Regions from separate parts of the Homo sapiens genome. Here region 2 is linked to region 1. A link means that fine-mapping ties the variant in region 1 to the expression of a gene that starts in the linked region. Tissue or cell type: whole blood. Region 1 holds a variant in brackets; the other region holds the start of a gene. All regions are shown on one strand. Distances are from middle to middle.

The links. PIP is the estimated chance that this variant, and not a neighbour inherited with it, causes the effect.
Region 2: ZNF333 starts here. The variant in region 1 is fine-mapped to the expression of ZNF333 in whole blood (TOPMed, PIP above 0.99).

The regions. Positions count from the first base shown.
Region 1 is chr19:14,945,425-14,950,573 of GRCh38, forward strand. It overlaps SLC1A6 (solute carrier family 1 member 6), which reads right to left. Exons shown (of 10, transcript NM_005071.3): 10 at 4,609-4,966. The coding sequence ends at 4,771. Among named protein-coding and RNA genes, the nearest start is that of OR7C2, 6.5 kb to the left of the region's middle. The variant T/C (reference allele first, on the strand shown) is at 3,024.
Region 2 is chr19:14,687,146-14,692,294 of GRCh38, forward strand. It overlaps ZNF333 (zinc finger protein 333), which reads left to right and starts at 2,903. Exons shown (of 12, transcript NM_032433.4): 1 at 2,903-3,005. RefSeq lists silencers at 2,497-2,546, 2,877-3,246.

The DNA.
Region 1 (5,149 bases):
GGTACACATAAATTTTTTTTTTTTTTTTTTTTTTTTGAGGCAGAGTCTTGCTCTGTCGCCCAGGCTGGAGTGCAGTGGCGCAATCTCGGCTCACTGCAAGCTCCGCCTCCCGGGTTCACGCCATTCTCCTGCCTCAGCCTCCTGAGTAGCTGGGACTACAGGCACCCACCACCACGCCCAGCTAACTTTTTGTATTTTTAGTAGAAACGGGGTTTCACTGTGTTAGCCAGGATGTTCTCGATCTCCTGACCTCGTGATCCGCCCGCCTCAGCCTCCCAAAGTGCTAGGATTACAGGCGTGAGCCACCGCGCCCAGCCACATATGAAATTTTTACACATACAATATATACTGATCAAATCAATGTAATTGGGGTATCTATCGCTTCAAGTATTTATCATTTCTTTGCGTTATTAACATTCCAATTCCACTTTTTTAGTTATTTTGAAATATACGATAAATTATTGTTAACTATAGTCACCCTGTTGTGCTACCAAATACTAGATTTTGTTCCTTCTAACTGTAGTTTTGTAGTCATTAACTATCCCTTCTTTATCCTCCCTCCCTCCTTACTGCCCCTCCTAGCTTCTGGTAACCATCATTCTACTCTGTTTCCATGAGTTCAGTTTTTTTTAGCTCCCACATACAAGTGAGAACATGTAATGTGTTTTTCTGTGCCTGGCTTATTTCTTTTGTTGTTGTTGTTTGGGTTTTGCTTTTTTTTTTTTGAGACGGACTTTTGCTCTTGGCACCCAGGTTAGAGTGCAATGGTGCGATCTCGGCTCACTGCAACCCCCACCTCCCGGGTTCAAGCCATTCTATCTGCCTCAGCCTCCCGAGTAGCTGGGATTACAGGCAGCCACCACCACGTCCGGCTAATTTTTTTATTTTTCGTAGAGACCAGGTTTCATCATATTGACCAGGCTGGTCTTGAACTCCTGACCTCAGGTGATCTGCCCGCCTCTGCCTCCCAAAGTGCTGGGATTATAGGCGTGAGCCACCAAGCCCGGCCGCCTAGCTTATTTCATTTAACATCATATCCTCCAGCTCCACCCATGTTGTTGTAAATGATAGGATCTCTCATTAATTTTTATGACTGAATAGTGCTCCATTGTGTATATGTAACACATTTTCTTTATCCATTCATCTGTTGATGAACACTTAGTTGGATTCCAAATCTTAGCTATTGTGAATAGTGCTGAAACAAACATGAGAGTGTATAAAAGACATCTCTTTTATGTATGTATTTATTAAATATTTCCACAGCTTTCCATTCATCTTTTATTATCTTTATTGTTTTACTTGCAGCTGTTTAATATGTTTGAGTCCATCAGTTATCTTCTCAGTTCTCTTCTTTTCTCTTTCTTCCATCTGGATTTCTGCTCAGAGGGTTAATCTATCTTTTTTTCTAGAATTCTGCTGCTATTTGACATTTTTCCTCCAACTTCATTCTATTATGGTGGTTGATGTTAAGATAGGAATTTAAGTTGATTTTGCTCCCCAATTAATAACCAATTATCCAAGTACCATTTTTAACGTCCTTCCTTCCCTCAATCAAAAAATTGATTTTTTTTCTTTTTCCTTTTCTTTTTTTTTTTTTTTTTTTTTTTTTTGAGGTGGAGTTTCACTCTTGTCACCCAGGCTGGAATGCAATGGCGCAATCTCAGCTCACTGCAACTTCTGCCTCCCGGGTTCAAGTGATTCTCCTGCCTCAGCCTCCCAAGTAGCTGGGATTACAGGCGCCCGCCACCACACTCAGCTAATTGTTGTATTTTTAGTAAAGACGGGGTTTCACCATGTTGGCCAGGCTGGTCTCTAACTCCTGACCTCGGGTGATCCACCCGCCTCAGCCTCCCAAAAAGTGCTGGGATTATAGGCGAGAGCCACCACGGCCGGCCCCCTCATTGATTTTAATGTCACTTCTATAATATAGTAGCTTATTTTACTGAATTTGTTTTTCATTATCCAGCAGCATTGGTATACAGTCATGCCCCACATGATGATGTTTTGGCCTAAGACAGACCACATATATTATGGTAAACCCATAAGATTATAATGGAGCTGAAAATTTTCTTTTCTTTTTTTTTTTTTCTTTTTTCGAGACAGAGTCTTGCTCTGTCGCCCAGGCTGGAGTGCAGTGGCACAATCTCAGCTCACTGCAACCTCCGCCTCCTGGGTTCAAGCAATTGTCTTTCCTCAGCCTCCGGAATAGCTGGGATTACAGATGCCCACCACCATGCTTGGCTAATTTTTGTATTCTGAGTAGAGACGAGGTTTCACCGTGTTGGCCAGGCTGCTCTCCAACTCTTGACCTCATGATCCACCTGCCTTGGCCTCCCAAAGTGCTGGGATTACAGGTGTGAGCCACTGCGCCTGGCCCGGAGCTGAAAATTTTCTACAGCCTAATGACTTCATAGTCACTGTACTTCAGAATGCAACACATTACTCACACGTTTGTGTCAACAAATCTACTGTTCCACCTGCTGTATAAAAGGCAAGCACATACAATTATGTATATAGTGCAGAATACTTGACAATGAAAATAAACGACTATGTTACTGATGTGTGTACTTACTATATTATACTTTTTTATCACTATTTTAAAGGTTACTCCTTCTACTTATTAAAAGAAAAAGTTAACCATAAAACAGCCTCAAGCATGTCCTTCAGAAGATATTCTAAAAGAAGGCATTGTTAATACAGGAGATGGCAACTCCGTGCGTGGTATTGCCCCTGAAGACCTTCCAGTGGGACAAGATGTGAAGGTAGAAGACAGTAATACTGATGATCCTGACCCTGTGTAGGCCTAGGATAATGCGTATGTTACAAATTTTTTAAACAGAAAAAAAAAACCATATAGAATAAGAATATAAAGAAAAAACATTTTTGTACAGCTGTACAATTTATTTAAGCTACCCGTTATTACAAAACAGTCCAAAAGTGGTTTTTTATTGTTGTTGTTGTTCTGTTTGATTTATTTATCTTTTTTTTTGAGATGGGGTCTGGCTCTGTAGCTCAGGCAGGAG[T/C]GCAGTGGCGCAATCTCAGCCCACTGCAACCTCCACCTCCTGGGTTCAAGCGATTCTTCCTGTCTCAGCCTCCTGAGTAGCTGGGATTACAGGTGGCCACCACCACACCCGGCTCATTTTTGTATTTTCAGTAGAGACAGGGTTTCACCATGTTGGCCAGGCTGGTCTCGAACTCCTGACCTCAGGTGATCCGCCCGTAATCCCAGCACTTTGGGAGGCCAGGGCTGCGGATCACTTGAGGTCAGGAGTTTGAGACCAGCCTGACCAACATGGCAAAACTCCCGTCTCTACTACAAATACAAAAATTAGCCAGGCGTGGTGGTGGGCACCTATAATCTCAGCTACTCTGGAGACTGAGGCAGGAGAATTGCTTGAACCTGAGAGGTGAAGGTTGCAGTGAGCCGAGATCTTGCCACTGTACTCAAGCCTGGGTGACAGAAAGAGACTCTGTCTGAAAAAAAAAAAATATATATATATATATATATATACATATATATATATATATATATACACGTGTGTGTATATATATATACACGTGTGTATATATATACGTGTATATATAGTGTATATATATATGTGTGTGTGTATATATACGTGTGTATATATATACGTGTATATATATACTTGTGTGTGTGTGTGTGTGTGTGTATATATATATATATATCTCATTACTGGGAGATATAATTGCTTTCTACTGAACTGAAAACGGCCCTGCGAGGGGCATTTCTACTGAACTGAAAACTCACATCTGGTCTCTCCTGGACTCTGTCCCATGCACCTTTGCTTTTGCTGATTTTAATCTTTACCCTTCACTGTAATAAACCATAACTGTGAGTATGATAGCTTTTCTGAGTTCTACGAGTCTTTTTATTTTATTTTATTATTATTATTATTTTTTGAGACTGGTTTCAAACTCCTGGACTCAAGCAATCCTCCTGCCTTGGCCTCTGAAAGTGCTGGGATTGTAGGTGTGAATCACCACGCCTGTCTTGAATTCTATGAGTCTTTCCTTTTTTTTGAAACAGAGTCTCACTCTGTTACCAGGCTGGAGTGCAGTGGCGCCAATCTCAGCTCACTGCAACCTCCGCCTCCCGGGTTCAAGTGATTCTCCTGCCTCAGCCTCCTGAGTAGCTGAGACTACAGGCGCCTGCCACCACGCCTGGCTAATTTTTTGTATTTTAGTAGAGACTGGGTTTCCCCATGTTGGCCAGGCTGGTCTCGATCTCCTGACCTCATGATCTGCCCGCCTCAGCCTTCCAAAGTGCTGGGATTACAGGCGGGAGCCACCACGCCCAACCCTGAATTCTATGGGCCTTTCTAGTGAATTGCTGAACCTAAAGGTGGTCTTGGGGGACCCCTGACACAGAGACCATGGATATTGTTTTATCAGGAGAAATAATGGTTTTTCTTTACCTTCTTCTTCCGCCACTCTTTGAGAATGTGAGAAACATGAGTTGACCACTCTTCTTGTTGAAGCTGAAGCTTCCCTTCTCCCCAAACCTAGGAGAAACGTTTCTTCCCCTCCCTTGCTCACGCCGTCCTTCAAGCCCTCAGCATATGCTCAGAGAGAAACAGAGACCTTATATACCTTTCATTCCTGCTCCTTTATTTCACTTTTCCCTCCCCCCTAAATGAGTCAAGCAGAACGTGTGTTCAGCCCACGGTCAGTTGGGCAACAGATGTGTCACCAGGACTCCCCTCCCCAGCCCCCTTCCCTCCTCTCTGGGGGGGCAGAGCTGGAGGCCCCTCACATAGCACTCTCGTTGCCTCCCCGTCCCCGGGATGCCCCCTTCTCCTGTGCCATGAGGGACTTGTAGGGTTTCCCCAGGCTGGGGAGGGTAAGCTCAGCTTCCTGAAGCTCCAGCTCCCGCTGAGACAAGTGCTCGATGACGGCCGCTCCAATTGAGTCCCCCAGTACGTTGGTCATTGTGCGAAGCCGGTCACTGGTACAGGGGAGAAAGAAGCTGCCATTAATGGGGGCTTGAAAAGCTTCACAGAAAGAGGGTGCAGCAGAGGGGGGTCCCTGTGCCAGGGAGTCAGAGGGCTCCCATTGCAGTACAATCCATGACCACATGTCCCCAAGCAGGTTCTTCCCCCTCTCTGCCCTGTTTCTCCTACTAACAAAC
Region 2 (5,149 bases), 260 kb before region 1:
CCCAAAGAAATATAAATCATTCTATCATAAAGACACATGCGCATGTAAGTTCGTTGCAGCATTACTCACAATAGCAAAGATGCGGAACTAACCTAAATGCCCATCAATAGCAGGCGATATAAAGAAAATGTACATGCACACCATAGAACACTATGCAGATGTAAAAAAGAATCAGCTCATGTTATTTGCAGGGACATGGATGCACTGGAGGCCATTATCCTTAGCAAACTAACACAGGAACAGCAGACCAAATACTGGATGTTCTCACTTCTTTTTTTTTGAAACGGAGTCTAGCTCTATTGCCCAGGCTGGATTGCAATGGTGCGATCTCGGCTCACTGCAACATCTGCTTCCCAGGTTCAAGTGATTCTCCTGCATCACCCTCCCGGGTAGCTGGGATTACAGGCGCCTGCCATCATGCCCGGCTAATTTTTGTATTTTTAATAGAGACGGGGTTTCACCATGTTGGCCAGGCTGGTCTTGAACTCCTGACCTCAGGTGATCCACCTGCCTCAGCCTCCCAAAGTGCTGGGATTACAGGCGTGAGCCACCATGCTTGGCCACTGACTCCTTTCTTACTCCTGGCTTTGTTGAGTTATAGTTGACAAATAAAAATTGTATATATTTAAGGTGTACAACTTGATGTTTTGATATACATACAGTGAAATAATGAAGCAATTAGCACATCCATCGCCTCACATATTTGCTTTTTTTTTTTTGGTGGTAAGAACACGTAAGACCTACCCTCTTAGCACATTTCAAGTACATAATATGTTCCTGTTAACTACAGTCACCATGCTGTACATTAGATCTCCAAAACTTATTTATCTGAAATAACTGAACCTTTGTACATTTTGTTTTTTAAATGATACATTTCTTTTATTTTTATTTTTAGAGACAGTGTCTTGCTATGTGGCCCAGGCTGGTCATCTGGAACTCCTGGACTCAAGCGATCCTCCTGCCTTGGCCTCCCAAAGTGTGCTGTGATTACATGCATGAGCCACCCCGCCCGGCCCAACTTCTTTGTAAGAACATTTAGCTTAAAACACAGATAAATTGTACTGCATAAAGGTATTTTCTTTCTTTATATCCTTATTCTATAAGCTATTTTTCATTTTTTTTTTTGAGATGGAGTTTTGCTCTTGTTGCACAGGCTGGAGTGCAATGGCAAGACCTTGGGTCACTGCACCCTCCACCTCCTGGGTTCAAGCAATTCTCCTGCCTCAGCCTCCCGAATAGCTGGGATTACAGGCGCATGCCACCATGCCCAGCTAATTTTTGTATTACTAGTAGAGACTGGGGGTTTCATCATGTTGGCCAGGCTGGTCTCGAACTCCTGACCTCAAGTGATCCACCAGCGTCGGCCTCCAAAGTCTTGGGATTGCAGGCGTAAGCCACCGCGCCCGGTCTTTTCATATTTTTAAAACCTTTTTAAATGTGAGTAATGTGTTGCACTGCAACATTGTGACAGTTACAACATCACTAGGTGATAAGAAATTTTCAGCTCCATTATAACCTTATGGGATCACAACTGTGTATGTGTTTCGTGGTTGACCAAAACCTTGTTATGTGGTGCATGACTGCACATGTGCTTGATATATAAAGAATACCAGGGAACTAGTGACAGTGGTTGTTTCAGGGGAGGAAAATTTAGGAATAGAGTGAGCCTCCCGTTTGAACTTTTCCCATAGGTATGTACTATGTATACTACATAATAAATAGTTTTTAAAAAGTCAGATCTATGTCTTAGATTCACACATCTTATTTTTAGTGAGAAGGGCAAGCTGTAGAAGAAACAAAAATACATCGTCCTATTTTTAGAATAAAGACAGTTAGTTGACCCGTGAACACCAAGGGTTTGAACTGTGGCTATCCCCTTATAGGTAGATTTTTTTCTACCTTTGTCCTCCTTGGGACAGCAAGACAAACCCCTCCCTTTCCTCAGCCTACTCAGGGTGAAGCTGACGATGAAGACGTTTATTTATGATCTTTACGATCACTTCCACGTAACGAAGAGTAAATATATTTTCTCTTCTTCATGATTTTCTTAATAACACTTTCTTTTCTCTGAGCTTAGTTTATTTTAAGAATATGGCATATAATATACAAAATATGTGTTAACTAACTTTATGTTATTGGTAAAGCTTCTGGTTAACAGTAGTCTATTAGTAGGTAGGTTTTGGGGGAGTCAAAAGAAGTGAATTTTCCACTGCACAGGGTGGCGCCCCAACTCCCGTTGCCTAAGGGTCAGCCGTATAAAAATATACAAAAACAATCTTAAGTATGGGTATATTTTTGTAGGGGATTGGATTAAGCCCATGGATAAAGGTGGAAGGGGTTGGGGAAAAGGAAGGAGAAAAGGGTAAGTTAAATATTGAGCATCCCTAAAGAGACCCGGGGAGGGGTCGGGTGTGCCCCTCTCAACCCTTGAAGCCCAGGTCCCCTCATCCCGCCTTCCGAATGCAAGTTCAGCTCCCATTCCCACCCCAAGCACAAGCCCCGCCCCATTTTTGCCCCTGAGGCGCACGACCCGCCCCTACTACCACCCTGCAAACCAAGGCCCCGCCCACTCCGCCATTGGGGTGCAAGCCCCGCCCATCAGCCATCGGAGGGCAAGCCACACTCCACCCCGCCCCCGCGCACAGGCCCCGCCCCACTTTTGCCCCGGGACCTAAGCCCCACCCCTATCCCTGTCTCTCGGACATAGGCTCCGCCCCCAGCACCACCCTCCATGCTCTGTGGGACCCCACTCCAGAGCCTAACCTCATCCCCCGGGTAAGAATACTAGAATTTCTCCTTGGAGGCTAAAGAAGACGTTAGTTTCTCTGCCGCCGCCTAAGGCTACCCTGGCCACAACAGCCTGAGCCACAGCCACTTCCGTTCCCGGCGGCCCCGAGACCGGAAGCGGAAGTGCGCGCGGCGGCGGCCGACGGCGGCTGAGCTGTGCTGCGCGGCGCGGCGCGGTGCGGCACGGCACGGTGGGAGTGTCTCCGGCTGGCTTGCAGGTGTGGCCCGGCCCCTCGGGAGGGCGGGGAGGGCGGGGAGGGCTCGGCTGGCGCGGGGAGGGACTGGAGGGCCTAGAACAGCTCCGCCTGTGTGAGGGGTTTCCTCCCTGCGATCAGCCGGTGGCCGGCGTGAGGCCCACACAGTCAGGGCCTCGCATCTGGGCGCCCGCCGCCCGGTCTCTCGCTCTCAGGTACCCCCCGTCCGGGCAGACAGGGCTGTCATCCTGTCAAAAGGGAAATCCCAAACAGTCCAGGTCCCACAGCTCAGAAATGTGGTGACACCGGCCCCAGCTCTCACCTGTCCTTCCCAATTTTTAGGGAAAGTGCATAAAGACGGCCCTACCTTGCCTACAGTATGCAAGATAACTGCGAATTAGTAATTCACGTTTTATTTGATATGATACTTAATATTATCTAGCTTTGCAACTGGAAAGTGAGGTCTGGGTCCACATGTGCAAACTGGTTTAATTGATTGGCCAAATTTACTTAAAAAATTGAATGCATCCTCCATTAAGGAATGAATTAGATGACGAGAGATTTCTTTTGGAGACTGACAATTTGAAGTCTTTTAGCTTAATATCTGTTAGCTTGGCTTTGCATCTCTTCCTTTTCCATAACTTTTTCTTTCTTCTTTTTTTTCTTTCTCATAAGAAAGCTTTTGGCCAGGCTTGGTGGCTCACTCCTATAATCCCAGCACTTTGGGAGGCCGAGGCGGGTGGATCACCTGAGGTCAGGAGTTTGAGACCAGCCTGGCCAACATGGTGAAACCCTGTCTTTACTAAAAATACACAAATTAGCCGAGCGTAGTGGTGGGCGCCTGTAATCCCAACTACTCGGGAGGCTGAGGCAGGAGAATCGCTTGAACCCCAGAGGCGGAGGTTGCAGTGAGCTGAGATTGTGCCACTGCACTCCAGCCTGGGTGACAGAGCAAGACTCCATCTCAAAAACAAAAACAACAACAAAAGGAGGAGTTCTTAATTTTTTTTGTTTTTGTTTTTCTTTATTTTCTATGTTTGAGACGACTTTTACTTCTGCTGTGGGCATCAAGTTTCTCACTGTTAGGTTAAGAAAAGCCGTTTCTCAGTTATTTCACAAATATTATTATCAAGAAAACCTAAGACTGTTATTCAGATCTTTTCAAGTTGGCTCCAGTCCTTCCCCCAAGCATGTGAATCACAGAGCTTCAAAACTAATGGAACTTCAGGGAAAAGACGATATAAACTTTGTTAATACTGGAAATTCAAATTGAGTTGGCCATAAGTGGGATGTCTTTTTTAATAATGGGGTTAAAGCTCGTGTCTACTGAGAAATCAGGAAAAAATTAACTCCAGAGGAAAATCATGCATCAGATTTCAGTTTTACGAGTGAGGTGTTTGTTTCCACAAAGAATATATGCGCTTGCCTTGCCTTTTTAAAAAGAATTAATATTGTTTCTTAAAGGTACCTGAAACTTGTGTGATTATGTCTTATGAAAGACAGGCACTTTAAGTTATTCTTATATTTGATTTTTATGGTGTCATATTGTCTTTTTTTTTTTTTTTTTTGAGACAGAGTCTCACTTCATCACCCAGGCTGGAGTGCAGTGGCACAATCTCGGCTCACTGCAGCTTCTGCCTCCTGGGTTCAAGCAATTCTCGTGCCTCAGCTTCCCAGGCAGCTGTGATTATAGGCGCCCGCCACCATGCCCGGCTAATTTTTGTATTTTTAGTAGAGACGGGGTTTCACCATGTTGGCCAGGCTGGTCTGGAACTCCTGACCTCAGGTGATCCACCCGCCTCGGCCTCCCAAAGTGCTGGGATTATAGGCGTGAGCAACCATACCTGGCCTCATACTGTGTTTTGTGTGTGCGTGGGCATATTCCTTCTTAGGCTAGCTATACTGAGTCATTCTTGAGGAGTGTTGATTATTTGGCATATTTTCACTGGGGTGCCCTCAATGAATTGGACCCTGTACATGGGGAAACAGTGGGACTGAAATAGTTACAGTGCTTGCCCCTGTGGAGGCTTTATTCTAGCTAATAATATTGGTAAATTAATAGTGCCAAAGGCAATATGAGAACGTGGAACAGGAGAACTTGGGGAGGATGTCAGGAAACACATCTGAAAAGGAACAAATGTTTGAACCTTCAAGATGAGTTGTACGTA